3 linked regions of the Homo sapiens genome follow. The protein of the gene in region 3 purifies or fractionates together with the protein of the main gene of each other region. This does not show direct contact. Each region holds a gene or a part of one and is shown on either strand. Other genes may lie near its edges. The genes, in order: RCN1, UBR3 and EGFL7.

Evidence for each region.
Region 1: the proteins of EGFL7 (region 3) and RCN1 purify together in Homo sapiens (co-immunoprecipitation; 2 studies listed by BioGRID and IntAct, with this or other methods). This does not show direct contact.
Region 2: the proteins of EGFL7 (region 3) and UBR3 purify together in Homo sapiens (co-immunoprecipitation; 2 studies listed by BioGRID and IntAct, with this or other methods). This does not show direct contact.

The regions. Positions count from the first base shown.
Region 1 is NC_000011.10:32,085,011-32,094,993, reverse strand, and holds the start of RCN1 (reticulocalbin-1 precursor), read right to left. Parts: upstream 3,921-9,983; 5' UTR 3,798-3,920; coding exon 3,544-3,797; intron 1-3,543. UniProt on the Homo sapiens protein: May regulate calcium-dependent activities in the endoplasmic reticulum lumen or post-ER compartment.
Region 2 is NC_000002.12:169,829,405-169,838,921, reverse strand, and holds part of UBR3 (E3 ubiquitin-protein ligase UBR3), read right to left. Parts: intron 1-9,517. UniProt on the Homo sapiens protein: E3 ubiquitin-protein ligase which is a component of the N-end rule pathway. Does not bind to proteins bearing specific N-terminal residues that are destabilizing according to the N-end rule, leading to their ubiquitination and subsequent degradation.
Region 3 is NC_000009.12:136,657,713-136,667,525, reverse strand, and holds the start of EGFL7 (epidermal growth factor-like protein 7 precursor), read right to left. Parts: upstream 4,611-9,813; 5' UTR 4,448-4,610; coding exon of another isoform or gene 4,418-4,447; intron 4,119-4,417; 5' UTR 3,903-4,118; intron 2,838-3,902; exon of another isoform or gene 2,835-2,837; coding exon of another isoform or gene 2,741-2,834; intron 1,759-2,740; exon of another isoform or gene 1,709-1,758; intron 1-1,708. UniProt on the Homo sapiens protein: Regulates vascular tubulogenesis in vivo. Inhibits platelet-derived growth factor (PDGF)-BB-induced smooth muscle cell migration and promotes endothelial cell adhesion to the extracellular matrix and angiogenesis.

The sequences.
Region 1 (9,983 bases), on a different chromosome or scaffold from region 3:
AAACATCTAGGACATAGCTCAGCCTGACAAATATTAGGGACTCAATAAATATTTGTTGTAAGAATAAATAAGATCTTAACCTTCTCTTTAACAATGTCAAGGGAGATCCTGGGAAAGGCAGCTAGGATGGAGATGAAGCCTAGCACTTTCATCAGAACACCTGGATCCCCGTCCTGCCTCTGGTCCCCATTATCTGCGTGATCTTGGGCAAGTGTCTTGACTCTCTGAGTTTCCCCATCTGTAAACTGAACACCTACTTCACAAGGAATGTTGTGAGGAATAAAGGAGAGAATGCATGCTTTTCCTCACTAAAGACAATAATCTAGATCAGTGGCTGATGGTAGCTGCTACACAGTAGCCATTCGGGTGTTTGTTGCATGAATAAATGAATGAAGTTAAGGTGTTGATGCAAGGAGCAAACCCAGACCAACTCCATCATCATTTGTTCTCAACACCAACAGGTAACAGAATGAGCAAAACCTTTTGATGGGACCTATGGCCACTTGGAGGTACCCTGCTAGCCGCCAAATAGGGCTGGCCGACTCTGCTGCAGACGATGACTGACACATGGGAATAAAGGTGTCAAGAGAAGCCAGATATGGGGGTCTGTATGTGAAACCATTCAAACTTTAAACGTGGGCAAGTAATTTACACTGTGTCGCATATTTATGAATGCATGCAGCCTACGGGTTCCCACTTTGCAACCTCTGGTCCAGGTGTCTTTAGGGGCCTTAGAGCTGTCACATTTTCAGGACTGACAGGTGATGGTGACAAAGTTGCCTAGATCCAGCCACACTCATTCCTCCTCAGCCCAATCTTGGAGGGGACCACTGAAACAGAAGCTTTGGACAGAGGGGCAGCTTCTCACACTCAGCCCCATCCCAAACAGGACCCATAATTTCCAGCACCTCCTACCCCGCCTCTACCCCACATTTAACCTACAAGTGAATGGTGCATCCATCACCCATCTGGTGGCTAAGGCCAGAGACCCGGATGTCCCCTTGATTCCTACCTCTCTCTTCTCCCCCTCATTGAGTCAAGAGCAAGAGCTGCCAGTTCTGCCTCCCACTGGTGTCTAGATTCATCCCCTCCTGGAATCCGGAGAGACCAAGCCCCTTTGGCATTCACCTCCTCTCCCTGCCACTGGTCTAGTCTGTGCCTTGATTATGTTCTCTGTGTACTGCCCTCCTGCCAGCCTGACTTTCCCAATGAGTTTTGGGGATTATGACATTTTGACAATGTACAGGATAACATCTCATGTCCATCTCACCAAGGTCCTTCCTGCTCTGCCCTTGGTTTCCCCTCCATTCTCACCTCTCACTTCCCTTCCCTGCCCCTTTGCAGACTCACCACCCCTCATGCCCCAGAACGCTTTTCAAACCCTTTAGAAATGGGCTGTTTTCTCTTCAGGAAGGCCTTCCCCTGCTGTACACCTGGCAACCTCCAAGTCATCCTACAAACTCTGATCAGGTGACAGCCCCAATCCCCTCTCTCTAACCTGCAGCCTTGGCGGCTCCTTCTCCTGAATGTGCTCACAGTAGGTTTTATAGGCCATCATTGCAGCAATTGTGCATAATGGCTAGTTTGTCTGTGCTTCTCTCCTCCACATTTGCTTACAAGCACTTCGACGCCCAGAGCATAAGGTTTCATCTTTGTACCTGCCAGTTATCTAAACTGGGGCCTGGTACACAGTAGCCATTCAAATGTTTGTTGCATGAATAAATGAATGAAGTCAAGGTGTTGATACAAGGATCAAATCCAGACCAACTTCACCGTCACTTTTTCTCACTACTAGGCTGAACTGTCACAATGAAGGCATTAACTGGAAGCTGCATGACCACACCTTATAAAGTTTTCCAAATCCCAAAACCTCTCCCTGCCTCCTCTCCAGTGACAATGTGGCTGCCACTCAGGGCTCCAGGATAAATCAGTCTCCAAGTGCCTCAAAGCAATACAATAGACTGAACTCATCAATGGCCCCTATTGTTAAGTCCTAACTGAGAAGAGAAAGTACTCTGCAAGATAAAAGGTAATTGTTTGGAGGTGACTTTGAAGTTCAAAGGTCTTTTTATCAGAGCAGGCAAATGGTGCACCTACACAATAGGTATAATTTATCCTCATATTCCAATGAAACACTTTGGCCTTTGGAGGCCCCCAGGAGCACAGGGATGGCTGTGTTCTCTTTCATGTGGCAGAACATGAAGATCCTCCACCCCCAGGAATCAGGTTCAGGGAGATCTGAGACCTGGTGCCCAATAGGCAGGACTGCTGGTTTCTTCCCCAGCCCTGCCTCCATCTGGGACCAGGCTGCCTGCTGGGTCCTCTGTGCAAGGACCACCAGATACCTCCGCACAGTGCCCAAGTGTTTCCTCAGGGGACCCGGGGAGGGTGTACTAAAATGCGCCGAAGTTTTGTTTCCCGGGTTTGGTTCCTGACTCAACTGCCTTTAACAGCCCAAGTCAAAATCCTCCACCACCAAGAGAACCCTCCAGCTTTTTGCCCCCCAAACAAATCAGTTGCCAAAGAACTGAGTGCTTCTGCAGACATCTGCTGCCAACAGAAACGTTTCAGGCGAACCGTTTCCATTCCTGCTCCCTCGTGTTTCCAATCGGAAACTGCGTGTCCCTTTTCAACCGGATTTTTGTATCCCTACACTAGATTTTATTTTATTTTTATTTTTATTATTTTTGAGATGGAGTCTCACTCTAGCCCCGGCTGGAGTGCAGTGGCGCAATCTCGGCCCACTGCTACCTCCGCCTCCCGGGTTCAAGCGATTCCCCTGCCTCAGCCTCCCAAGTAGCTGGGATTACAGGCGTGTGCCACGACGCCCGGCTAATTTTTGTATTTTTAGTAGAGACGGGATTTCGCCGTTTGGTCAGGCTGGTCTCGAACTCCTGACCTCAGGTGATCTCCCCACCCCTCCCCCCGCCTCGGCCTCCCAAAGTGCTGGGATTACAGGCGTGAGTCACCGCGCCCAGACTCCTTACGATAGATTTACAGGGCGATTAGGCAAAAGGCAAGACCACTGCGGCCGAGACCAGGAAGCAAGCCTGTCGCTCGCCTGCCCCTTCATCTTTTATCCATTTATGTTCATCCCTGAGATTTTCTTAGCGAGTGTCTCAAGCCCTTCTCCCCGGGAGTGGGGGATCAGAGAGAAACTGCGAGAGAGTGGGGAGGAACTCATGGCACTAACAGGCCACTGTGGACAAACTCTTCTTTTGTGCACTCTCCCCTCCCTTCTGATGCAACCTGGGGGAGGGGGCGGGCCCTCGCCGTCCTGGCTCCCGCGGCCGCTGCCACGTTCTCGCCTCCCCGCGAGAAACCACCCCGGCCGGGGCGCGGCGGCGGCGATCTCCAAGCTGGGGTCCCGGGGCCCTCCAGCAAGTTAGCCTGAGCCCCAGCGCCGAGTTGGGCAGGGCCCCATCCTCGAGGCCGCGCGCGCGATTTCGCTTTCGCTTTGGCGGTGGTATCCCGCGTGGCTCTCGCCCAGGCGGCCCTCGGACACCTGCGCCGCCCCCCACGGGGCCCTGGCCGCGGCCTCACCCTAGCCTCTCCTTGCTCTCGTCCGGGGTGAGCTGGTCGAAGGTCTTGGAGTCCTCCTTGCCCAGGAAGGCCTCGTGGTCGTACTGGAAGCTCTGGTTGTCCTCAGGGGGCCGCTCGCCCAGCTCCGAGTCGGGCCGCACCACGCGCTCTTTGCGCACCGTGGGCTTGGCCCGCAGAACCCGCGGCGCCAGCACCAGCGCCAGCAGCAGCCCCAGGGCTAACCCCAGGCGGCGGCCGCGGCCACCGCGCGCCATCGTCCCGAGGAGAGGGCGGCCGAGAGGGAGACGCTGAGCGAGCGACAACAGCGGCAGCTCGGGAATGGGGACTCGGAGCGCGGCGGCAGCGACAGGGTTGGGGCCGGCGCGGAGGAGGGGACTGGCCAGTCCCTCCGCCAGTGCCCGCCCCGAGCCGGAGCAGAGGGGCGCGCCTGGGCCTCGGGCTGGGAAGCTGCGGGCGGCCCCGCTCGCGCGCCCATTGGTCGCTGAGCTGCCGGGGGAAGCCGGGGCCGCGGAGCCACGTCGCCAGCTGGGGTGGTGGGCGCGGGGCTCGTGTTTCGCCTCGGCCCCTCCCCGCGATCTTGTTGCTAGGGGCGGGCCCGGGCGAACTGGGCTAGGGACTGGAGGGCTCGGAGGAGGATTGGGAAGTTCTTTGTCAAGCAACAGATGTGCAGGATAAAATTCCCTCTGACTTCCTACAGTTCCGGGAAAACTGTAAGGAAGGAGACGTTGCCCTTCCTCAACTTCCAACTGAGACCCCGAATCTCAGCCCTAGACCCTGCTCTAAGATGTGCTCTCAAACCCAATTCAACCCCATTTAGTAAAATTTGGAGTCTGGTTACAAACGCGAGCCTGGAAGGAGACCAAGACGGGCGAAGTCCCCTAGAAACGAGGGTCGTACTGTCAGTCGTCAAGGAGGGTCAAGCGGGGAACTTCTATATGACCAAGAGTCCCTCTAAAGGGAGCGGTACTGTGCGTTCCAGCTGCCAGGGGAACGCAGGCCCCACGCTGATAGATAGTCCTGTTTCCCAAATGAAATCAATCAGGATTTTAGATTTTTATGTTTTATTTCTAAATGTTGGTAACTCATTTTACAAAAGCACTAGTTGGATCCAATCTTACCTGTATTCAGTTGGTAATGCTACCAATACAGATATCTGTCCCATCAAACTTTCTGCAATGATGGAAATGCCCTCTATCTGGTCTGGCCTGTAGGTAGTGGCTGTTGAGCACTTGATGTGTAGCTTAGTGTAAGTGAGGCACTGAAATTTTAATTTAAATCTAAACTTAAAGAGCCACACGGGACTAATGGCTACCGTATTGGACGGTGAGGTCTCGAGCAGTCTCAGCCTTTTGACACTCATTGAAAGCCATGATCCTCTTCCAGAAAAATGCACATACAGCTACTGACACGGGTGCTTGATTAAAGAGTCGGAGGATTCATGGATCTTTTGAAGCCCCACCTATGAGCCCCAGGTTAAGAATCCCTAGAAGGCCGGGCACGGTGGCTCATGCCTGTAATCCCGGCACTTTGGGAGGCGGAGCCAGGTAGATCACTTGAGGTCAGGAGTTCGAGACCAGCTTGGCCAACATGGTGAAACACCGTCTCTACTAAAAATACAAAAATTAGCTGGGCGAGGTGGCGGGCGCCTGTAATCTCAGCTAGTCGGAGGCTGGGGTAGGAGAATCGCTTGAACCTGGGAGGCGAAGGTTGCAGTGAGCCGAGATCATGCCATTGCACTTCAACCTGGGAAACGAGAGAAACTCCATAAAAAAAAAAAAAAACCCTAGAAAACTGAAACGATAGTTGAAGAGGGAAACCCACCATGACAGCTAAATATCTGTACTCCTAGAAATTTCCTCCATCTTGCCTTGCCTCCCACCTCCATCCCTGATGTTTTCAAAAAGGTCTGGGATGTGCTTCTTGCCCTTGCAATAAAGATGTCGTCGCAACATAGACGCAAGTCCCTTTCTTGGGACGCCCTCTTTCAATCAATTAATAAATCATTACTGTCTTACTACTACAGCCTAAGCACTGGACTGGGTGCTGAGGGTACAATGGAGAACAAGATAATCATGGTGTCTGCAGAGCTATAGTGTATATGAACAGATGTTCATTCGTTCGTTCGTTCCATAAACTGAGCACCTGCTAAGTGTCAGGCTGTGCTGGATTCTGGCTAACTGAGATCCATGGATCACAAGTCAGCATGACAAGTGCTCACAGAGAAAGGCATGTAGTGGTCTGGGGGTACTGAACCGATCCAGACATGGGAATCAATCAGGGAAGGCCTCCCAGAGGAAGACACATTTAAATTGAGACTGAAGGTGAGTAAGATAAGCTAGATGGAAGGATGTAGTTATGTGAGAGAAGGATAAGATCCTGTACGAGCTAGCAGAGGACAGCTCCACATTTGAGGCAATGTCTTTGTGACCCCACTGGCTGGCAGTGAGAGCTGGGAAGCCAGTCCTTGGATCCCCGCTTCTCTTCCTAGTCCCCTTCTTTTCCTTGGATCCCCCCCTTCCCACCAGCTGACTTTGCATGGCACAAGAAGTACTGTGCCTGAGACCAGACATGCTTCCCCCAGCCAGCCTAGAGATCTGAATTTCTAGCAATAGAGGAGCATTACCTTGGGGGTGTAAGAGCTCCCTGCTGAAATGCAAGTGTCCTAAGGTAGGCGGTTTAGTACCTTCTGTGCTCATCAGGCAAGCAGGATATGAATTGTTGAGTGAGTGAGGGAGGAGAAGGAGGAGTGGGAGGAGGAACAGGGAGAAAAAGATTGGGGCTAGAAAAAGAAGGGGACTAGGAAGGGAACGGGAAAGCGAGTGGAGACTGGTGACAGTTTTTGCATATTCACAACTTTGGCCACAGGCTGGCCTGGGTCCCTGGGATTGGTCCAGACTCTCCAAAAAGGCATATCTTTTGCCCTTGTTATAGTTGGCTTCCTGCCAGACACTGGTGGTTTCCAACAGTTAGATTGTTTCAGAGGTAGTCTTGGCTCCTGTGGGAATTACCAGAGAATTCTAGCACTGCTGTGAATCCGGAAGAATTTACATAATTTCCCCTGGGCTTGCCTACACTCTTTTCCTTTATATTTATTTTCATCCCTCCACCCTACCATAAGAGTTCAAGTCCTCCCAATCAAAGGTTCAGGAAGGATGATGGGACAGAATAGTCAAGGTATTGCACTGTGTAATTGCTTTCTTTCATTTTCAAAGCTGTTTTGCATCTCCCCCCCATGTGCATGTTTGGGAAGAGTGACTAAGTGCATTGTCATGCCTTAGGTCTTAGGTTAACCTCCATTCTTGATGAAGCAGAGGAACAAGAACAAGATAAGTAACATTTAGCAGAGGGTTGATTCAGTGAAAAGGAAAAGCGAGTTTCAAATGGGTAAACTGATCAGCTTAGGGTATGCTGGTCTCCCGCATCTGGCCAAAAGTAACACCATCAACTACAACAAAAATCCAACCAGAAGTTACTGAAACAAGAAGAAAACTTTACCATCTCATGCAACAAGAAGTCATGAGTTATATTGGTTTCAGATTGGTTAATTTCAGTGGTTTCAGGACATCATCAAGGAATCAGGTTTTTTTGTTTTTGTTTTTGTTTCTCCCTCAGAAACAGTAGGGGAAAGGAATGTTCTCTCCCTTTCTTTGAAAAATAAACTTTCCCAGCAGACTGTCCCTCATATCTCATTGGCCAGAATTGTGTCATGTGCCTATGCTGGATCCAGTGACAGGCATGGGGAATAGAAATTCCATGATTGATTTCAACCAATCAAGACTCACTGGTAGGAGCTGGAAAGTACTGTATGTAGCATCCTCTGAAGCACATGATTAGGGTTCTGTGGGCGAGGAAGAACAAGCCAAATAGCTGTGTCTGCCACATGTTTAAAAGCACTTTCAGCATCTCTACCTCCCTCCTGCTTCTCCACCATTCAAAATTACATGAACTTTTCAGGTCCCAACTCAAATGTCACCTTCTCCATGAAGTTTTCCCTTATACCTTAAATCAGAATTAATTATTTCTTCATCAATATGCCCAGAGCCTTTGTATCTCACATACTTCTCACAGTCAGCTTTGTATTAATTTTTCTTCCCTTCTAATTCTGAATTCCTTGAGAGAAATGATCACAGCCGATTCATGTCCATGTTCGTAAATCCAGGGCCTACCATATTTACTGCCTTCTGGCAGAAGTTGATCGCCATAAGACAGATTTGCTGTGAGACCAGGACCATATTCTTTTGGCTCACCACTGTATACTCAACCTAGTATAGTGCCTGGCTCATAGTAGGTGCCCCTAAAATATCTTGAATGAATGATAAAATAACAATAGCTACCAACTTCTGCTTCTGGTCAAGATGGAGTGAAGGAGGGACTGGATTTATCCTCCCATTTGAAACAAACAAACAAAATATATGAAGCAACAGTTTTCAAGACACTGGACACCAGGCAATGAACAACATTGGAAACAAACTAGGTGAGTCCCAGGATTACCCCAGAATTACCTTGGCAGAGTTGCCAGGTCACTGTGCAGAGAGGGAGAACTAAGATGGATCCTGGCAGACTCCTGAAGTTGAAAAGACAGAAGTGAGTGTCCAGAGAGACCAAGTCAGCCGTGGTTCTAAAGAGAGAGTACTGGAGAGAAGATGGCTGCACAGAGAGAGAATCCCAAAGCTCCACAGAGGATCCCCTTGGCCATTCAGCAAAGTGGTGAACAGTGCATGCGTGTAGGCTGAGGACTGAGCCATCTGAAAGGATTAGAAGGAACAGTGGGTGCCAGGCATGGTACCTGTTCCCATCAGTCAGACTGGAAAAACTCATCATTCATGGGGCACTGGGTACTTAGTAAGGTCTTGCCTCAGTGGTGGGGAATAATTAACCCTAGACTGAGCACTGCTCCAGAAAGTGCCTCTCAAAGCACAAAGGCAAGACCTGAAAAGCTCAAGAAAACATACAAGAATTAAAAAAAAAAAAAATTTGGCACCCAACAAGGTGAAATTCACAATTTGCATTATCCAATCAAAGACACAGCAAGGCAGGAAAACACAGCGAGGAGAATAATCGGTCTGTAAAAACTGACCCAGAACTGACACAGATATTAGACTTAACAGAGAGGAACATTAAAACAATTATTGTAATTGTGTTAAATGTTTTAAAAGTTCAGAAGAGCCAGAGAAAATACAAAAAAGACACAAATTGAAAGCCTAGATAGCAAAACTTTGAAATCTGGGATGAAAAATACACCATATAAGATTAACAGAAGGTTAGATATTGCAGAAGACAATATCTTTTTACTAATTAAATACTTTATTGAATAAATACAATAGCAAAGAATGCATTCAAATGCTTTCTAAAAAATTAATTTTAAAGGTCTTTCTATTCAGACTAATGATAAACGCAGTAAAGGCAGATGTGCTAGTTTAACATAATTGGCTTATTTCATACAGCACTTTTATCTTTTAGTCCACAAGTATATTATTAAATGATAGAGAACATCTAATGCAACCATTTCCATGGGACTAGGAAATACATTTCTAAGAAAGAAAGATGTTATAGACCCCATCTTTTATACCCACCCCCTCAGTCTAACTCTAAAGAAGATAAAAAAATAATGACTATCTTCACAAGGGCTCATGACTAATGTCACTTTGCTATCAAAATCTGTATCTCTGATCGATTTTAAGCATTGAGACAAGATTCAAATATTTCCAAAGAAAGAAGCACAATGCACATTGTGGTCACTTATTCAGCAACAACGAGCACTGCATCCAAAACTATCTCACTTCGGAATGAAATAAGGTCAGCCACATGCATGGGCATCTCTTCCGCTATGGTATCGTAGAAAGTCTCAGTGTCATGAACAATCTATTTGTCTTCTTCAGTAACAGTTTATATCCACACCTTTCTTCCCAAGTCGACCCCCTCTGCCAATTCTTTGTTCTAATTGTGTGCTGTCTCACTTATGATTCCACGTCCTAAATTACATCAATGCCATTTCTGAGTACCATCTTGCCATCAACTGCTGCTGTCGACTCCTGTGAATATAGTTTTCACAATTGGTAGGTAGATCACAGTTTGTAACCAAAGACACTCATTGCTCCTCCATCCCACAAGCCGACAAGTCATTAGTGATCAGAACACAGCTTGACCCTGATCAGAAATCCCTCATGCTAACATCTTTTTCCTTCTAGTCCATATCATCATGCAGAGCAGGAACTGTGAAGTCCCTGGTGTGCGTTTTCTCAGTGAGCCTGCTCACCTTGCGTCTTGCACTGATAAAAATCACAGCCTGTGTGATGGTCAGTGTCTCGTGGAAGTCACAAAGTATATCTAACTTTCATTCCTACAGTATTTCAAAGAGAAAGGTAACAGTCATTTAGTTTTCAACTTTCTTTTGTTAGATATTCATTCTGTTAGGTCTACTGATATATTGCACCAAATCT
Region 2 (9,517 bases), on a different chromosome or scaffold from region 3:
CATTCCCACCAACAGTGTAGACACTGTGTTTTGAAAGCAGGTAACTTGTTTGACTTCACAGGTTCACAGCTAGAGAGAAATCTGCCACAGGATGAAGCGTATCTTTGAGTCTCACCGTATCTGATTGAAATGATGTTTAGATGAGACTCAACTTTAGACTTTTGAGCTGGTGCTAGAACAAGTTAAGACTTCTGGAGTTACTGGAATGGAATGAATGTATTTGTATGTGAAAAGGACATAAACTTTTTGGGGGCGAGGGGCAGAGGCAGAGCACCAGTCTGAACGTGTGTCCCCTACAAAATTCACATTGAAACTTAATCTCCACTGTGGTGGTATTAAGAGGCGGAAGCCTTTGGGGATGTGATTAAGTCATGAGGGCTCTGCCTTAAGCAAGTGCTGGAGGGAACTACCTTAGGCCCTGTTTGCCCTCTTCCCCGCTTCTGCCATGTGAGTATGCAAGAAGGCCTCACCAGACACACACACACACACACACACACACACACACACACACACACACACACACACACACACACAAATGCCTTAATCTTGGACTTCCCAGCTTCCAGACTGGAATAAATAAATTTCTGTTCTAAATTACTCCGTCTGATGTAACAGCAGCACAAACAGACTAAGATGGATGGCAATTTATGTATTCTGCCATAAAGTATTCCATTGAATGATTAAACTACAGTTCACTAATCTCACTGTTTCCATTTTTCCCTATTTCAGTGTTACAATGAACATACTTGAACATGTATCTTTCTGCAACCTCCTCATATTTAATGTGATGCCAGTCAACATCTTAACAGAAGTTTTCCAGAGAACTTGACAAGCTCCTGAAATTCAAATGAAAACAGGAACCAAGAACAGCCAAAAACCCTTTTGAAGACTAATAATAAGGAAATCCTGCCATATCAAAATACATTTTAATGTTCTAATAAAGTAGTATGGTATTGTTATAAGAGACATATCAATACAATAGAGAACTTAGGACACACATAGGTTTGGTCTGTGATAGAGGTGACATTATAGATCAATGGAGGAAAAAAATGTTCAATAAGTGAATCCTCATATTGAAAAAGATAAAATTAGATCTAATGATATGGTTTGGTTGTGTCCCCACCCAAAATCTCATCCTGAATTGTAATCCCCATAATCCCCACACGTCAAGGGTGGGATGAGGTGGAGGTAACTGGATGATGGGGATGGTTTGCCCTATGTTGTTCTCATGATAGTGAGTGAGTTCTCACGAGATGTAATGGTTTTATAAGCATCTGGCATTTCCCCTGCTCGCTTCTCCCCCCCTGCTGCTCTGTGACTAGGTGCCTTCTACCATGATTCTACGTTTCCTAAGGCCTCCCCAGCCATGCTGAACTGTGAGTCAATTAAACCTCTTTCCTTTATAAATCACCCAGTCTCCAGCCGTTCTTTTTCCTTTTCTTTTTGAGACGGAGATTTCCTCTTGTTGCCCAGGCTGGAGTGCAATGGCGTGATCGCGGCTCACCGCAACCTCTGCCTCCCAGGTTCAAGCAATTCTCTTGCCTCAGCCTCCCGAGAAGCTGGGATTACAGCCACACGCCACCACACCCGGCTAATTTTGTATTTTTAGTAGAGATGGGGTTTCTCCATGTTGGTCAGGCTGGTCTCGAACTCCCGACCTCAGGTGATTCACCTGCCTCGGCTTCCCAAAGTGCTGGGATTACAGGCGTGAGCCTCCGGGCCCGTTCAGGCAGTTCTTTATAGCAGTGCGAAAACAGACTAATACAGACCTCAATCTCATACTACATGTAAAAATAAATTCCAGATGGACAAAAGACCTAAGTGTACAATGAAAAACCTTAAATCTTTCAGTAGAAAACATATAAGCATTTTTTTAAACCAAGGTGAAGAAGATTTCTTTAACAAGATACAAATAATACAAACTGTAGAAGAAAAACTACATTTTTAATTTAAAATCGTTTACAACAAAATTATATATTTCAAGGTAAAAAGACAAGACACAAACTAGAAGATGAAATTAAGTATTTATACAACAAAGGATCAGCATCTAGAGTATGTACAGCATTCTTAAAACTCAGTAAAACAGAAAAACAAAACAGGCAAATAATATGAACCAGCAGTTCACCAAGAAAGAAGCCCAAATGGCCCCAAAACATATGAAAAGATGTTCAACTTTACTAGTCAAGAAAATATAAATTTTAAAAAGATGTTTGTATCCAACAGATTGGTAAAATATTATAAATTTATATATATAACACCAAGTGTCTTTTGGTTTTTTTTTTTTTAAGTTCTGAATTACATGTGCAGGATGTACAGGTTACATAGGTAAATGGTTGCTGTGGTGGTTTGCTGCACCTATCAACTCATCAACTAGGTATGAAGCCCAGCATGCATTAGCTATTTTTTCTGATGCTCTCCCTCTCCCTGCCCCCGACCCAACAGGCCCCTGTGTGTGTTGTTCCCTTCGTGGTGTCCATGTGTTCTCATTAACACCAAGTTTCAATAAGCAGAAAAACAAGACCTCAAATTCCTGGTGGGGCCAGGCGTGGTAGCCCATGCCTGTAATTCCAGCACTCTGGGAGGCTGAGGCGGGAAGATCACCGGAGGTCAGGAGTTCGAGACCAGCCTGGCCAATATGGTGAAACCCCCATCTCTACTAAAAATATGAAAATTAGCTAGGCATGGTGGCGGCCGCCTGTAATCCCAGCTACTCAGGCGGCTGAGGCAGGAGAATTGCTTGAACTCAGGAGGCGGAGGTTGCAGTGAGCCGAGATCGCACCATTGCACTCCAGCCTGAGTCTGATGGGGACAGAGCGAGTTTCCATCTCAAAAAAAAAAAAAAAAAAAAAAAAAATATATATATATATATATATATATAGAGAGAGAGAGAGAGAGAGAGAGAGAGAGAGAGAGAGAGAGAGAGAGAGACAGTGCACACAGGAATTTCAGGAAAATGGTTAACGTCTGGAGAGGAAAAGAGAAAGGGAAAGGTGGGTTGACCTTTCTTTGGTTTTTTGACTAAAAGCAACTCTAGAGCAAACATGGCAAAAGGTTAATATCTATTCATCTCAATGGTAAGTACAAAGGTATCTGTTATACTACTTTTGTACTTTTCTGTAAATTCAAATTGTTTCATAATTGAAAATAGTTTTAACTGAGTTTTATAATGATTTAAAAATTAGGCCACGCACGGTGGCTCACGCCTGTAATCCCAGCACTTTGGGAGGCCAAGGCAGGTGGATTGCCTGAGGTCAGGAGTTCCAGACCAGCCTGACCAATATGGTGAAACCCCACCTCTACTAAAAATACAAAAATTAGCTGGGCATGGTGGCATGCACCTGTAGTCCCTGCTACTAGGGAGGCTGAGACAGGAGAACCGCTTGAACTCAGGAGGCAGAGGTTGCAGTGAGCCGAGATCATGCAACTGCACTCCAGCCTGGCAACAGAGTGAGACTCCATATCAAAACAAACAAACAAACAAAATATGAATATTTTAGGTGTAGTATTGGTATTGTGGTTTTGGGGGAGTTGTTTGTTTTTTGCTTTCTTTTCAAGAGATGAGGTCACTTCATGTTGCTGAGGCTGGAGTGCAGTGACTATTCCCAGGTGTGATCATAATCCACTGCAGCCTCTTACTCCCAGCCTCAAGCAATACTCCCAACTCAGCCTCGGGAGTAGCTGGGACTACAGGTGCGAGCCACCATACCTGACATTATTTTTTAATTGTGGTAAAATATAAATAACATAAAATTTACCATTTAAAACATCTTAAGTGTACAGTTTTAGTGGCATTAAGTACATTCACATTGTTTTGCAACCATCACAACCATCGATCTCAAGGACTTTTTCATCTTCCCAAACTGAAACTCTGTACCTGTTAAAAAAATAACTCCCCAATCTCCCCTTCCCTTGGCCTCTGATAATCACTATTCTACTTTCTGTCTGTATGAATTTGACTATTCCGGGCACTTCATATAGACCGAAGCATACAAGCATTTGTTCTTTTGTGCTGGGCCTATTTCATTTGGCATAAGGTCTTCAAGGTTTATCTACATTGTAACATTCTAATGTGTCAGAATTTTATTACTTTTTAAGGTTAAATATTCCATTGTACGTATATTCCACATATTGCTTACCCATTCATCTGCTGATGGACATTTGAGTTATGTTTTAGAGTTCACATCTCTTTACTGAGATGCATACTCAAATATTTTTAAATTAAATTATAAGGTATCTGATATTTGCTTCAAAATAGTCCTGGCTGGGACGAAAAAGCAGTGGGACAGGGAGATAACAGATGAAATGGGATATAACTTTTCACTTATGAGAGCAGCAAAGATCAGAAACACTGATACCACCATATATACTGCCAGAATATGGGGAAACAAATTGTTTCATACATTGTTGGCAGGAATGTAAATTAATTTCTTTGGAGGGTTCTATCAAAGTTGAATTTGCAAATTTCCTTCAACCAAGATATAACTTCTAGGAATGTATCCTCATACATAAGCTCACACACATATGAACAAGTGTATACAAGAATACTGACTGCAACAATGTTTACAACAGCCCAAGTCTGGAAACAATTTAAATGTCTATCAGTAGGGACTGACCGCAAAAATCATAGTACATTACAAAAACATGGAAATACAATGAAATACTATTTAACTTTAAAAATGAAGCAGTTCTACTTTTGAGATAGTATCCATAAATATGTTAAGGGGAAAAAAGCAAGCTACTGAAGAGAGTAACACTATTCAACCAGACATTCACGTGGTTCAATTTCTGGCTACCACAGATCAGAAAACCTAAAAACCTCCCACAACACAGGCCAGGCACCACACTGTGGCTCACGCCTATAATCCCAGCTCTTTGGGAGGCTGAGGCAGGTAGACTGCTTGAAGCCAGGAGTTCAAGACCAGCCTGGCCAACATGGTGAAATACCATCTCTACAAAAAATACAAAAAGAAATTTAGCTGTGTGTGGTGGTGTGCGCCTACAGTCACAGCTACTTGGGAGGGTGAGGTGGGAGATCACTTGAGCCTGGGAGGTAGAGGCTGCAGTGAGCTGTGATATCACACCACTGCACTCCAGCCTGGGAGACACTGCGAGAACCTGTCACTAAAAAAAAAAAAAATCTAGAAATGCTGGATAAATTATAACTAATCTCTTTTAAACACATAAGTAACCTTAAAAGAAAAGGAAATTTCTTACTGAGGGGTAGGATGGAGAAAGGCACCTTTACTTTTTACTTTATCCACTTATTTTTATGTTATAATCAATGTGTATTACTTCTGAAACTAAAAAAAGAATGAAAGCACTCTGAAAAAAGCTGCTATGGATTTAATAATCAATGCCACCTCATGAGTAACTAAAGCAATGTAATCTTACAGTAACTTTTTGGGTATAGCAGCCACTTTTTTATCCAATTTAATTCAAAATTACTGACACCTCCTAAGTACAAGAGACTTAGTAGGTGCTGGCCTCTGGCTAATAGCAAAATGTGGTCCTTATCTTTTAAGGAGCTTAGAATATGTGAGGAAGAACAAGCAAGGAGACAAAAATATCTGTAATATAGGACAGAACATGAAACTCCTCATTCTCTGCACCAAAATTTGAGAACTAAATGTTTAAAATCCCAGTTTCCAGTTAGTATCCCATCAGAGCCCAAAACCAGCTAGTCAGACATTACAGTTGACCCTTGAACAACACTAGTTTGAACTACAAGGGTCCACTTATACAAGGATTTTTTTAACTAAACATGGATCAAAAATGCAGAATTCATGGGATCTGACACTCACATACATGAAGGGCAGACTTTTCATATAAGCAGCATTTCAGTATACCCTGAAGAGTGGGTGGGAGGTGGGTATTCTGGAACCAGTCTCCTATGTATACCATATACTGAGGAACGAGTGTATTTTAGACTTTCCATTACAGGTTATTTTGTTTTGAGTTCATCCACCCATAAAGCATTTTTTTTTTTTCCAGATGGAGTTTCACTCTTGTTGCCCAGGCTGGAGTGCAATGGCATGATCTTGGCTCACTGTAACCTCCGCCTCCTGGGTTCAAGCAATTCTCCTGTCTCAGCCTCCAGAGTAGCTGGGATTACAGGCATGCACCATCATGCCCAGATAATTTTGTATTTTTAGTAGAGATGGGGTTTCTCCATGTGGTCAGGCTGGTCTTGAACTCCCGACTTAAGGTGATCCGCCTGCCTCGGCCTCCCAAAGTGCTGGGATTACAGGTGTGAGCCACCACGCCCGGCCCCCATAAAGCATTTCTGACAATGACTGCACTTACTCACTAGTGGCAAAACTGTAGTTATACATACAGTTTTTTTGTTTTTTTTCCTGAGACAGAGTCACGCTCTGTCGCCCAGGCTGGAGTGCAGTGGCGGGATCTCACTCCAAGCTCACTCCAAGCTCACTCCAAGCTCCGCCTCCCGGGTTCACGCCATTCTCCTGCCTCAGCCTCCCGAGTAGCTGGGACTACAGGCACCCACCACCACGCCTGACTAATTTTTTGTATTTTTAGTAGAGACGGGGTTTCACCATGTTAGCCAGGATGATCTCAATCTCCTGACTTCGTGATCTGCCCACCTCGGCCTCCCAAAGTGCTGGGATTGCAGGCGTGAGCCACCGCGCCCAGCCACATACAGTTATTAGCACACAATTTCCATAGCCTTTGTGATTTCATCCCACAAATGAATCCTCAATTGTTTTCTTCCTTTGGTTTGTATATCTGCTAATACTGCCACATTGATTATATCAATACTACTCAGTCAAAAATAACTAAATCCTCCCCACAGTTCTATAATTGCTAATTTGAAAATTAAATATAAATACAGCTGTGATAGATTCAAGATTCTTCTCCATCTCCAATCAAGAACATCCTACAGGCAACAGTCAGACACTGGTGAAAAGGATTATGGCACAGAAAGATTTATTCTCATTTACTAAGAGCACAAATACAGCTGAAAAAAAGGAATCCTTCCTCTAAAAGTGACTAAACCATGAAATTTACAAACTTATGGCAGTTAGAATAAAAACCCCAAAATCAACACACATTCAATCTTTGGCAATCTAAAGGGGTTTTTAAAATACCAAAAACTTAGAAAAGTTCAAACATTCTGTTCATGCCAGTGTAGTCCAGCTTTGCCCATGAGAACACTGTTACAAGCTGTTGATGATTTCCAGTTCTAAAAAGGTTCCAGAGGCAGTCTTTTAGGTTGCAGAGCTGGTCAACATCACCTATTTCTCTTGAGGCAGTAAATTAGCTGTATAGCCCAGGAAAATTACTCTATCCAATCCAAGCAGTTAGAAAAAATTCAGAGTAATTGCATGGCCACAATACTGTTTATTGTTCAATCTTGCCCTTTATGAAACTGGACATGGCAACTGCTGACACATACAGGCAATAGCTCTGGTTTCAGACAAAGATAATAATAAATCTTTAAATATTATGTATCCGGCCGGGTGTGGTGGCTCATGCCTGTAATCCCAGCACTTTGGGAGGCCGAGGCGGGTGGATCACCTAAGGTCAGGAGTTCAAGACCAGCCTGACCAACATGGAGAAACCCTGTCTTTACTAAAAACACAAGAAAAAAAAAAAATTAGCCGGGTGTGGTGGCGCATCCCTGTAATCCCAGCTATTTGGAAGGCTGAGGTAGAGAATCACTTGAACCCGGGAGGCAGAGGTTGCGGTGAGCCAAGATCGTGCCACTGCAATCCAGCCTGGGCAACAAGAGCAAAACTCTCTCTCTCAAAAAAAAAAAAAAAAAAAAAAAAAAAATATATATATATATATATATAATGTACCAACTCATAGAGGGTTGCCAGACTGGGAAAATAATACTTACCTATGAGACACCAGTAAAAGCAAATACCATGAGGTTAGGATGTTGACTGTCTATAGCCTGGATGCCCTAAAACTGTATGAATACCTTCAAAGAAACTCACTGACATATTTCTGGTAGTACACTGAAGCATCACAAGCGATCAGACTTCCATCTCATCCACGACAACCTGATAATTACCACTGTATTCCAAAAGTCAGGAAAGAATCAGTGTTATTTCCTACCTTCAGGTTCTCTGGAGGCTTTCCTAAATGCTAACCCAGTCCAAGAAGTAAAAATGTCTAAATATCAGTAAAGGATTGCTCCAACTCCTGTTTTGATGTGCCTCTTTAAAACAAAACAAACAAAAAAAGTTTAAAAAGAAAGAAACAAAGGCCCAAATAAGAATAGCATATTAAGGAAAAAAAAAAAGATAAAACATAGAATTGAAAAGAAAAACCAGTAAGAATGCTATTTAGTAGGGGCAGTAAAGAGAAATGGTTGATTAGTCTGGCTCCAGAGCCCTGGAGCCAGCATGCCTAGCTTACTGCCTGTGTGAACTTGAGCAAGGTTTTTAACTCTGCCCTACTTTCCTCTTCTGTACAATGAGAATAATAAAAGTAATAATCTCAGAGTCAAAGAATAAATAAGTTAAATCACATAAAACAGCTAGAATTTGGCCACTTTTAACCAAATAGATAAAAGTCCAAAATTTTACTACTACTCTGTTGATGAGGCTGTTGGAAAACAGGCAGTCTCACAGAGTAATTAGTACTAAGCCTTAGGGAGGGCAATTTGGAAATCACACTTTTGAGAATTTATCCCACTGACTCTCTTGACCAGGTGGGGAAAAGACAGATACACCACGTTTTTAATTTTATACTGGAAAGCCAAATGCCCATGAAGAGACATTAAATCAAGAATGGCAAATTCACACGCACAAAAAATAAAAATAAAAATAAAAAAAGAAATTAAAGAATGGCAAATTGAAAACATGGAACACTATGCAGCAGTTTTTTTAAAAAAATAGAATGACGACACTGATTTTTTAATAGGAAAAATACATCTAAGATAACCAAAAAATGCAAGATGTAGAACAGTGGAAAGTATGTAACCCTTTGCATAAAAAGAGACTGAAAAACTAGGAAACATCTTTGCTTGTTCTGCACCAAGAGAAACTAAGCGGGAAGGAACTGGACAGATAGAAGACTAGATGTGAGAAAAACTTCCGTGTGTGTGTGTGTGTGTGTGTGTGTGTGTGTGTGTGTGTACTTTTTAGCTATATATTTTACCTATTCAAATATTAAATTTTAAAAAGTACTTTTAAAGTATCAGACATACAGTTCAAGAACTCAAATGTTGGCCGGGCGCGGTGGCTCACGCCTGTAATCCCAGCACTTGGGAGGCCGACGCGGGCGGATCACCTGAGGTCGGGAGTTCGGGACTAGCCTGACCGACATGGAGAAACCCTGTCTCTACTAAAAAAATACAAAATTAGCCAGGCGTGGTAGTGCATGACTGTAATCCCAGCTACTTGGGAGGCTGAGGCAGGAGAATCGCTTGAACCCAGGGGGCGGAGGTTTCAGTGAGCCGAGGTCGCGCCATTGCACTCCAGCTTGGGCAACAAGAGAGAAACTCCGTCTCAAAAAAAAAAAAAAAAAACTCAAATGTTAGCTGCAA
Region 3 (9,813 bases):
CCAACCCCCTCCTGGCTGTGCAGCAGGAGCCAGGGGCCCGGGTGAGGCTTCCTGAGAGCATGAGAGCCCAGAATTAATGGTCTGTGGCAATGCCGGGGATGGGGATTCTGTCCTATGCGCAGCCAGGGGTCTGGAGACCTGGCGAGCCCCTGCCATGCTGCAGGGTCCCACCCAGGGCCTCTCACGGGTGCTTCCCAAAGGCTGGGTGGGTTCCTTCCGAGGCACTGCAGGGCCCTCCGCAGGGAAAGGCCAGGCTTCGGGTCGGGGCAGAGGCTGGGGTAAGGCTGTCCCTTCTCTGGGATTCAGTTTCCTCACACACTAGAATAGGGTCTCTGAGGCCCCTCCTCAGCTCTGACAGCCAGTCCTATAAATAGTCACACTGTCCTCAGTCGCTGCTGGCCAGCCCCACTGGGTGTGGAGCACGATCCCACACCTGCTTCCCACGGGCACTGCCAAGGCATCACCCGGTCCCAGCGGGGAGGGTGGCTGGGGGTCCTTCCTGGGCCTCCAGTCCTCTGTGCGCTGGAGAGAGGAGGGCAGGGCAGAGGCTGCCAACTAGGCAGAGGCTGCCCTGGGCAGCTGAGGGGTGGGGACTTAGCTTGGGGGCAGGGGGGGCATCACAGCAGTTTTTGGGCAGGAGTTTGTCGAGGGGGCAGAGCTGGCTGGAGATTAACTCTGGGGATGGGCCCTGGATGAAGGACACTGTTAGGGGCTGGGTCTGGTGCGACCTCAAGGCAAGACTCGAAGTCGGGGGACATTGGGGAGTGGGACCCGGGAAGGAAGAGGTAGGGCAGCGGCCCGGCGGCTTGATGTGGGCAGGGGGATGCCAGGGCGGGCCTGGGGGTAGGCGAATCTCCCAGACCTCATTGCCCCCCACACATATTGGCACAGCTCCCCCCCACAATTCCTGAGAGTCGCCTGGACAGGAAGCGGTGCTAAGTGGAGACTCAATTTTTGAAAGTCATGTTTTCCCGAGGCCAGAGGAAGCCCGTGGTGCTCTCCGAGCCGGTGCTGCAAGCCCCATTTCCCCGGGGGGGGCCACGGCCTCGACCCAGGGGTGCCGGGCGGGGAGGGGGCGGCGGCGCCAGGTGGACCAGCAGTCCGGTCCCCGTGCCCCCAGCGCCCACGGGCTCCCTCCCCACCTGCCCGGCAGCAGCCCCGCAGCCCCCACCCGCGAGAGGCCGGGTCCGCAGAGGGAGGGGCCTGGCTGCGCCGCAGGCACTGGCGGACCCCTCGCGGCGGGAGCAGGGCTGGGGACCGCGGGGCCCACGAGGGAGGGCGCAGAGGCGGAGCGAGACGGACCTGCCCGCCGCCCCCTCCCAGCCGCGCTGCTGGCTCCGGGGTTCGCGGGGGGCGGAGCAGGCGGCACAGGCTGGGCCCCGAGGCGCTGAGTCGCGCCGGGTCGGACGAGGGGCCGCGGCGACCCCGGCCCTCCCCGCCGCGCCGCCCGCCCGCCCGCCGCCGGCAGGGGGAGCCGGTTCCCGGGGCCGCTGGGCCCATTCTCCCGGCCCGGCCCGACCCAGCCGCGGGCGCCCCGGCCCGCTCCGCCCCCGGCCCCAGCGGTCGCGCTGCCTCGTCCCGGAGCCGCCCCCAGCTCCGCGCGCGGCCAGGTTCCCCGCCCCCGGGGGCTCCGCGGGTCCCGCCCTCGACCCAGCCCGGGCGGCGACCGGACCCCGACCCCGGCGCGCCCCGCTCGCTCCGCACTCACCGCCGGATCCGGGGCGCGCACGCGCCGCCGCCACTGCCGCCCGAGCCCGCGCCGTGGGGGCCCCGAGCCCCGCCCCGCCCCGCCCCCGGCCCCGCCCCACCTGGCGGCCCCGCCCCGCCCCCATTGCGCAGACGGGGAAACTGAGGCCCCGCGGCGGACGAGCTGCCCCCGGGCGGGCAGTGACTCTGCTGGAACCCGGGGCTGACGCAAACGCGCCTCTGAGCCGCGGCCCGCCAGCACCCCCTCCGGGAATCCTGGGGCCCGAGTCCCCGCGGCAGGGCGCTCGCTGCGCGGTCGCTGGGGACGCACGACCAAGCCCGGCCGCCAGGAGCCAGGAGAGGCCGCCCAGGGCGCCCACACTGACGGGGCTGCGGGCCCTTTGCTAGCTTTCAAGCCCCCCAGGCTGAAAACCACCCCGGGACGCCCATCTCAGCCGCTGGGGGGCCGCGCGGTAGGCGCCCGGCGCAGGTTAGCACTGAGCTGGGTCCTGCAGCCTCGCAGGCAGTGGGCATCATGACCGTCCCCACCGCAGGCCCAGAGACCCAGATCTCCTCTGAGACCACATGGCAGAGCCCAGGCCTGCCTCCTAGCCTTAGCGTGTTAGGTTGGGGGCCCCTGCGCCGGCCCCCACCTGGCCCTCTCTCAGGCATCAGGCACCCTCACCGGGGTCACTGGGTCACTGCTGAGTTCAGCACAGTCAGGGCCATCGCAGAACACTCCTCCCAGCGAATCCACAGGCCCCCAGAGAGTCTCCTCACACCAGAGGTCCCTGGGCTGGTCACCTCTCTTCTCCAGGCCTCCATTTCCAAATTTATAAGATGGGGCTAAACAGCCCTGGGATCTAGTGACGGTGAGGTCGTGGCCACACAACAATTGTTACAGCTGTTACTGCGGGCGCGGCACGTGGGGCTCGGGCCAGCCCAATTCAGCAGCCCCTCAGACCCCAGCCGGAGCCAGCGCCCTGTGTCATAACCCGCGTGGGCGCCGGTGTGAGAAGTGTTCCCTCGGAGCAAGGGGTTTGCTGGGACTCACCTGGCGGAGGAGAATCAGTCATCCCCCGGACAGGGGCAGGAGCTGCTCCTCCGGGTGGTGGGGGCCACCTGTGCCTCCCCGGTCCTGGGGGCTGCTGGTTGGAGAGGAGTTGTGGGTTAGTGCCTATGCACAGTCCTGGTCACCCTGATGTCTGGGGGCTGGGAAGGGGCCCGGGACCAGCTTTCGGTGCTGCTGTGGGACCTCCGCCTGCACTAGGCCTACAGGCCCCTGTCCTGCACCTACCCCGACCCCATCCTGTCCTGAGCTGATTGTCCTCTCGGATCCGCAGCCCCTGGCCTCAGTAAAATGGGGTTATTGCCTCCAGCCCTGGACTCCCTGGCATGGGGATGGGAGGCTGCTGTGAGTGGAGCTGGAGGTCTCTCCATGTAACCCAGGGTGCTGGGCAAGGGGCCTGCAGATGGGTCCGAGAGGGCCACCAGCTTGGTCCTACCTTGGTGCATGGGAGCTGGAGGAAGGGAGGGGCCCAGGTCCCTGGAGAGGAGTCCCCAAAATGAGGCCGCCCCACCCTGCAATCCAGTGGCCACTGCTCTGGACCAGGGGCCCTGGAAGCCCCTGGCACGTGGTCCAAGGGACGACCAGAGCAGCTGCTGTCAGGGGGCGTTCCTCATCTGACTGGGGAGTCCTAGGCCTCCTGGCGCCCTGAGCCCACGCAGGGCAGCTCTTACCTAGCCCCCAGCAGTGAAGTGTTCAGAGTGGGGCCTAGGGGGCCTCTGGGTGGGAGAGCCACCGCCACCCTCCCTGTCCCCTGCCCCTGGCCTCATCTCTGGATCTGCGGTCACTTAACCCTTTGACCTGCCTCCCCACCTCTCCTGCCTGAGTCTGGAAGAGGCGATGGAGCAGAAAGGGCAGCTCCAGGGCTGCCCCGACTCAGCCCTCGCTGCCCCCATCCTGGCTAGGCACCATTTGGAAAGTGGGGGTTCTCAGACAGGCTTCTTGGTGTGGACGTATGAGACAAAAAGTGGGGCCTTCTAGGACCCACTGTGGTTTTGGGGGCTTTGGGATGGGGCTTCAGCCACTCTGCATGAGGCTGGGGAGAGGGAGAACAAGGGCGTCTCCAGGGTCCAAGGGGGGCCCACAGAGTCACCCATTTGCCCACCGCACCCAGCAAGTCATCCCTAAGCCCGAGCCCCACGTCCCGCACCCTGGATTCACACTGCTCATCCTGGCTACAGATGTGGCTTTGGGGTTCCTCTCCCTCGGGGCCAGTTCCCCTCCCCGGGCCCCCGTTGGGTTGCTCATCCACTGCTAGGGAGAAGATGAGGAGACCTCAGCCCTCGGGACACCGCAGGGCGTAGCGCGAAGCCCCTCACAGCGGGCCCAGCCAAGCTGAACTTTGCTGCCAACCACAGGGGCTGCTCTGCGGAGGGAGAGAAAGGCCAGAGGGTGGGGTTCAGGGGAAGGGCGACTGGGGGTGAAGTGTTGGAGTCAGCAGACTGGATTGGGATCTACGCTGGGCCACCCACTAGCAGGCGTTTGGCCAAGGGGCCTCAGTGGCCTCCTCTGTGCAGAAGGGGAGGAGACTGGGACCCCTCCCCTGTGACCTCGCTGGGGAGCAGATTGCGGAGCAGCCAGCAGGCGCCACGGTCAGCGGGAGTGAGGGGAATGGGGGGCCCGCCCTGTCCGCTCCCTGCCCCTCCGAGGCCACCCCTGCCATACCTGATGCTGCTGGAGCCCAGGCGTGGCCATGGTGGCCGCTGCTGTGTCCTGGGACTGGAGATGGACCCTAGCCCTTGCTGGGGCCTCAGGCCCACTGGCCGCCTGGAGGCACCTCCTGAGGCCCACCTGCCTGGCCTGTCCACAGGAGCCTCCCTTGCAGCCGTGCAGGGCCAGCTTGGTGCAGGGAGGCTCCCCCCGGGCGAGGAAGGGCGGCTTTTTATGCTCCGTCCTGGGTAATCGGGATTGGGATGGGCCCTTCCCAGCCGGACTTCCTGTGTGTGTTCTCCGCTGATAACGGGGACGTGTCGTCGGACAAACAGGAGGCTGAGGGGGGTGGGGGCCACCGTGTGAGGGGGCCTGGACAAACTGCCCAGGGGTGGGGAAGCCGTCCCCTGGGCCATCAGAGTCTAGCCCCAAAACAGCCAGAAACCAGGGCTGGACCCTGCTGGAGACCCTGGGGAGAGTGTGGGGTGGAGGACGCAAGCCCAGGGCCCTCCCAGGACCGTGGGTTCACAGGCCATGCTCACGTGTGGCTGGACAGAAGGGAGCTGCTGCATCTTTGGGCCAAGGATGCTGGGCCCTCCCCCAGGACACCCCCAGATGTGTGTGACACAGCACGGGAGCTTGGAGGGGCCCCAGGCCAAGGCAGGGACCAGCCACACAGGAGCCTTGACCAGTGAGGGATGGCGAGTGGCGAGGCCCGGCAGGAAGGGACTGGGGTGGCAAGACAGGCTGAGCGGTCCGAGAACAGCCTGTTCCGTGGGTCCCTGAGGCCCATGGTGAGGGGGTGACGGGAGGGGACAAGCATGGAGTCCAAGCTCTCTCCCCTAAAAGAGCTGCCAGTGAGGCTGTGAGCCCCTGCCCTGGAGATGGGCAAGCAGGCCCAATGCCCTCAGCCCCACTTCACAGGGGTGCTCTGGGCTGGCAGCAGGCTGCGGCCGGGGGTGTGGGGAGGGATGCGGGACACTGTGGGTGATCACAGGGGGTGCTCTGTCAGATTCCCGGCGTCCCAGCCTCCAGGTCTGACCCTCATCTTCCCTGTTCACACGGCAGTGGGAGCCTCAGGCCGAGCGAGCCACTGTGGCAAAGGTGGGCTGGGTGGGAGGGGACACGGTGCCGAAGGGAGCTGGGTGGCTTTGGAGGGCACGCCTGGAACCCCAGGAGAGCAGGGCCTCTCCCAACCCCGCTGTCCGTGGGGTGTGAGCCCTGCTTTGGGGTCAGCCCCTGTCGGCCTGATGCCTGGGACACCCCCATTTCCCTGGCCCTGGGCGGTCAGTGTGCCCCCACCTCTCCAGCCCCACTCAGCTGGGCAACTTGAGCCAAGGGAGGCTGGGGCAGCTGGGGAAATTCCCCACGGGACTTTGGAGGGCAGGTGGAAACCTCACCCACACGCGATGCGCCTCCCCCTCAAGCAGGAACCAGCTCCCCTCTACCCACGGCCAGGGGAAGGGTCTGCTCTGGGCGCCAGGCTGTGGTCAGGGCTCAGGGCCTCAGCCAGGCAGGACCTCACTCTTCTCCGGGCCTGTTTCTGCACCTGCTTCATGGTCACTGAGCTGGTTTAAGGGGGCGCTCCTGGCACCCAGGCACCGCTGGTCTGAGCGGGAGGGGCCTCTTTCCAGAGGTGGCCCCTGCCCTGAGGTTGGAGCAGATAGGCAGAACCCCATTTCCCCACCTCCTCCACACTAGGCCACCCTGGGATCTGGCCCTTACCCTACTGGCTGCACCCTCAGCCGCCCTGTGCCTCCCTCGGCCCCCTGGCTCTCCCACCCAGGGGCTCATCCTGCCCTGGCCAGCCTGTCCCTCCAGCTGTCAGGAGGGGGTTGCAGTGAAGAACAAGTTGGCAGCAGGCCGGGCCCAGTCCCCCAGGCTGTCACCCAGGAGTCCAGTGCCAGGAGGACAGCCTGGGGAGGACCCAGACTCTGCCCTCGCCCCTGGCTGTAAGCACAGCAGTCAGTTCACCGGGAAGGCCCCCAGCGGGCCAAGCCTTAGCAACTCGTGCACTCGGCTACTTAGCTACTCCACCGTATAGGGGCCCAGTAGGCTTGTGCCCCCATCCCAGGAGGTGCCCTCTTGCCCTCTGCCTGCATCCCTGCGGCCTGCCCCCTCCTCCCCCACCTGCATGCCCCTGGATCTGCCCTGGCCTCCTGGTGGAAGGACCCACAAGCATGGGGTGGGCTAGATCCAGCCCTTTCTGTGTACAGAGGGGGAAACTGAGGCCCAGAGGGAGAAGTGACCGGCCCAGGTGAGCCTGGAGGCCGGACAGGGCTGGGATGCTCGGCACAGGAGGCTGCCTCACCCTTCCTTCCTCTTCTTGGGGAGCCCCATGTCCCCCACCCCAGCTTGTCCTATGTCCCAACCTGGAGCAGCCCCTGTCATCAGACCTATCCGGCCAGGGGACAGCTCGGGGCAGGAATAGCTAAGTAGCCGAGTGCACGAGTTGCTAAGGCTTGGCCCGCTGGGGGCCTTCCCGGTGAACTGACTGCTGTGCTTACAGGCAAGGGGCGAGGGCAGAGTCTGCGTCCTCCCCAGGCTGTCCTCCTGGCACTGGACTCCTGGGTGACAGCCTGGGGGGCTGGGCACCGCCTGCTGCCAACTTGTTCTTCACTGCAACCCCCTCCTGATAAGCTCTGCCCTGCCCCCAGCCCCTCCCCAGGCCAAGACTAGACCCTCCCCAAGGGAAGGAGGCCTGGGCTCAGGCCCAGAGTGCCAGCTTTGCCCTATCCCATAGCCTGGAGCCACCACAGGAGGGGCACTCCACTCTCTTGGGCTCCTGGAGCCTCAGAGGCAGGTACAGGAGGTGGGCTGCGGCCTTGCCCTAATGTCGGGGGCCCAGCGGGGACAGGAGGGGCGGGGGGTTGGCAGGGGACAGACATGGGTTCTTGGACGCCAGAGGGTACTGGGGGTCCAGGGGGTTGGGGCTGCCCCCGGGTTCTGGTATGGGTGGAGCACACTCTGTGCCCAAGGCCCAGGGGCTCAGCAAGGGGCAGGCGGGCCCCTCCCTCACCCTCCGGTCCTTGGAGGTGCCCCCTTCCCTGCCCTGGCCGCTCTGGTGGTGTGTGTTTGGGATCATGGCACAGACCTTCAGCAGGGAATCATTTTGGGAGTCAGCAGTGCCTCCTGCCCAGGCTCCAGCCCCACAGAAGCCAGGCCGGGCCCCACGCCTGGCCTCCTCCCCTCACCTCAGGGGCCCAGCACAGAGGGGGAGACCTGGTGGGAGAGTGTGGCCACCCCAAGGCCTGCGCCTGTCCTCATCTGGGCACTGGAAGGTCTGGAGCCCAGGGCTTCACCCTGCCTGGGGTGGTGTCAGAGGTGGAGGCCCGGCAGGGGCAGGAAGCTGGAGCTCTGGTCCCAGCTTTGTGCCCCACACAGGCCTCAGTTTCCCCATTGTCTCTCTTGTCAGCAGGGCCATGTTGTCCAGTGGCCTTCCAGCCACCTGGGAATGTTCTGAGGTTAGTTATAAGGGGAAGGGCTGCCTTACCTTCCCAGAGCGTGCTGGCTGGGCAGAGAGGCGTGGAGGGGCCTGGCAGAGCCCCCCGGGCCCTCCCGGGCCTCCCGGACCCCTCACCAGGGTGCTTTTGGCCTCTGAAGCCCCAGGAGAGGGCAGACTAAGCCCCTGGCAGAGGCCAGCCTGGGCATCTCAGGTGGCGCGAGACAGAGGGGCACCAGGCGCGGCCGCGGGAGCCGGGCTGCAGGAGGTGCAGGAGGAGGGAGTGAAGCAGAGTGCGGGAGGGATGGGGCTTCCTGTTTACCCCGAGCGCCCCCCGGCCTCGGACGGGCTGGCTCTGTCAGCCACGGATGTGGTGGAACCTTCCCATCAGAGGACGTCCCGGACCCGACGGGGGCTGGAGGGAGCTGCCAGGCAGGGGTGCCTGCGGGCAGAGGAGCCGTCTGCTCCCGAGCGAGGGTTTGGGCAGGGAGAAGTGAGGGTCCCCAGCCTTTCCTCTCACCTCTCCCTGCCTGCTCCGGCCCCTGACCCACGTCCCAGAGCGACACCCTCTGAGTTGAGGGGCTTCCATTTTCAGAGGAGGCAGCTGGCTCACAGGTGGAAGCCGCTTGTTCAAGGGTGGAAAACGGAGGCCCAGGACTGGAGTCCGGGCGCCTGAGCCTCGGGGGTCGCCCGGGGGACCCCTCGCCCTTCCCCTGGCCGCTCCCGTCTCCCTTCCTGGGGCTGCCCACTGCTCCAGCTGATGGCGTGGAGGAGTCCATGGCCTTGTGGGCTGGCTTCTTGGCAGGTCCCCACCGGCTTTGCATCTGAGTGTCCCCTTCTCCTGACATTGCCCCTACCCTGGTCCGGTCCACCCCGCTTCCTGCCTGGATAACAGTCGCCCCTCCTCGGCCTTGCTGGGCGCCGCTGCCCTTCACACCCAGTGCTCAGGGAGTTTCGCGGAGGGACACATCGGGTTGTGTGACCTCCTCCTAAGGCGCCACCACACTCAGCACAAAGTCCAGTCCTGCCGGTGCTCCATGCCCCTGCCCGGGTGCGCGCTCCACAGGGCAGGGACCCGGACCTGGAAGAGGTGACTTGGAGCAGGTGCGCAGAAAGTGCGGAGTCCCCCACTGCGCCGGGCGTGTCACCCGTTGGTGGCCTGGCAAACTTGAACTGCAGCGAGACGTGGGCTTAGAGATGGGAAAGTGAACCTGAGAGGGGCCGGCAGCCCGGGCAGGAGACACAGCCCCTTGGCCACACCCCAGGGGACCGGCATGCCCCACTGCTGGCAGCAGGTGATGGGAGCATCCCTGGGAGAACAGACTCCCCCCAGTTCTGCACACACTGCTGGTGCCTTGGAGCTCTTACCAGCCTGGGGGCTTAGCTTTGAACATCTTCGTGTTATCTTTTGGCAGACGTGAAGATAAATGCAGTTCCCTTAGGCTGTCCCTGGGGGGTCCCCAGTCCCAGGAGGGGCAGGAAGCCAGGGAATGCCCTGCAGTTCTCAGGTCCCCTGCCAGCAGTGCAGGAGCATTTGGCCGCCCCACACCCTTGTCAGCACTTGCTGTTGTCTGTCTTTTTCATTTTAGCCATTCTGATGATTTTGCAGTGGTATTGCTGTATTGTTATTTTTGTTCATGTAGGAAGGTGAAGAAAATCTTATTTTTTAAACGGCAGAATCCGTCCCTAGGGAGAGACTTGCTTCACAGGGGAGACACCTGGCTGGGGTGAGAGCGCAGTGTGGGCTCAGGGGGCTGTGTGCTGCAGGCTCCGTGGATGTCCCCAGCAGCACCCAGGGAGTCTGGAGGGGAGGAGAGAGAAGAGGCCTCCACTGTGGAGTGAGCCTGGGAGAGGGGTCCCCAGATGGACACTGGGTGCTGCCTGGCAGCTCACGAGGTGGGCACTGGTGGTCTGACTTGAGAAAGCCTTGTGGAGCAGCGTGAGCCCCAGATGGAGCCCCTAGTGTGTG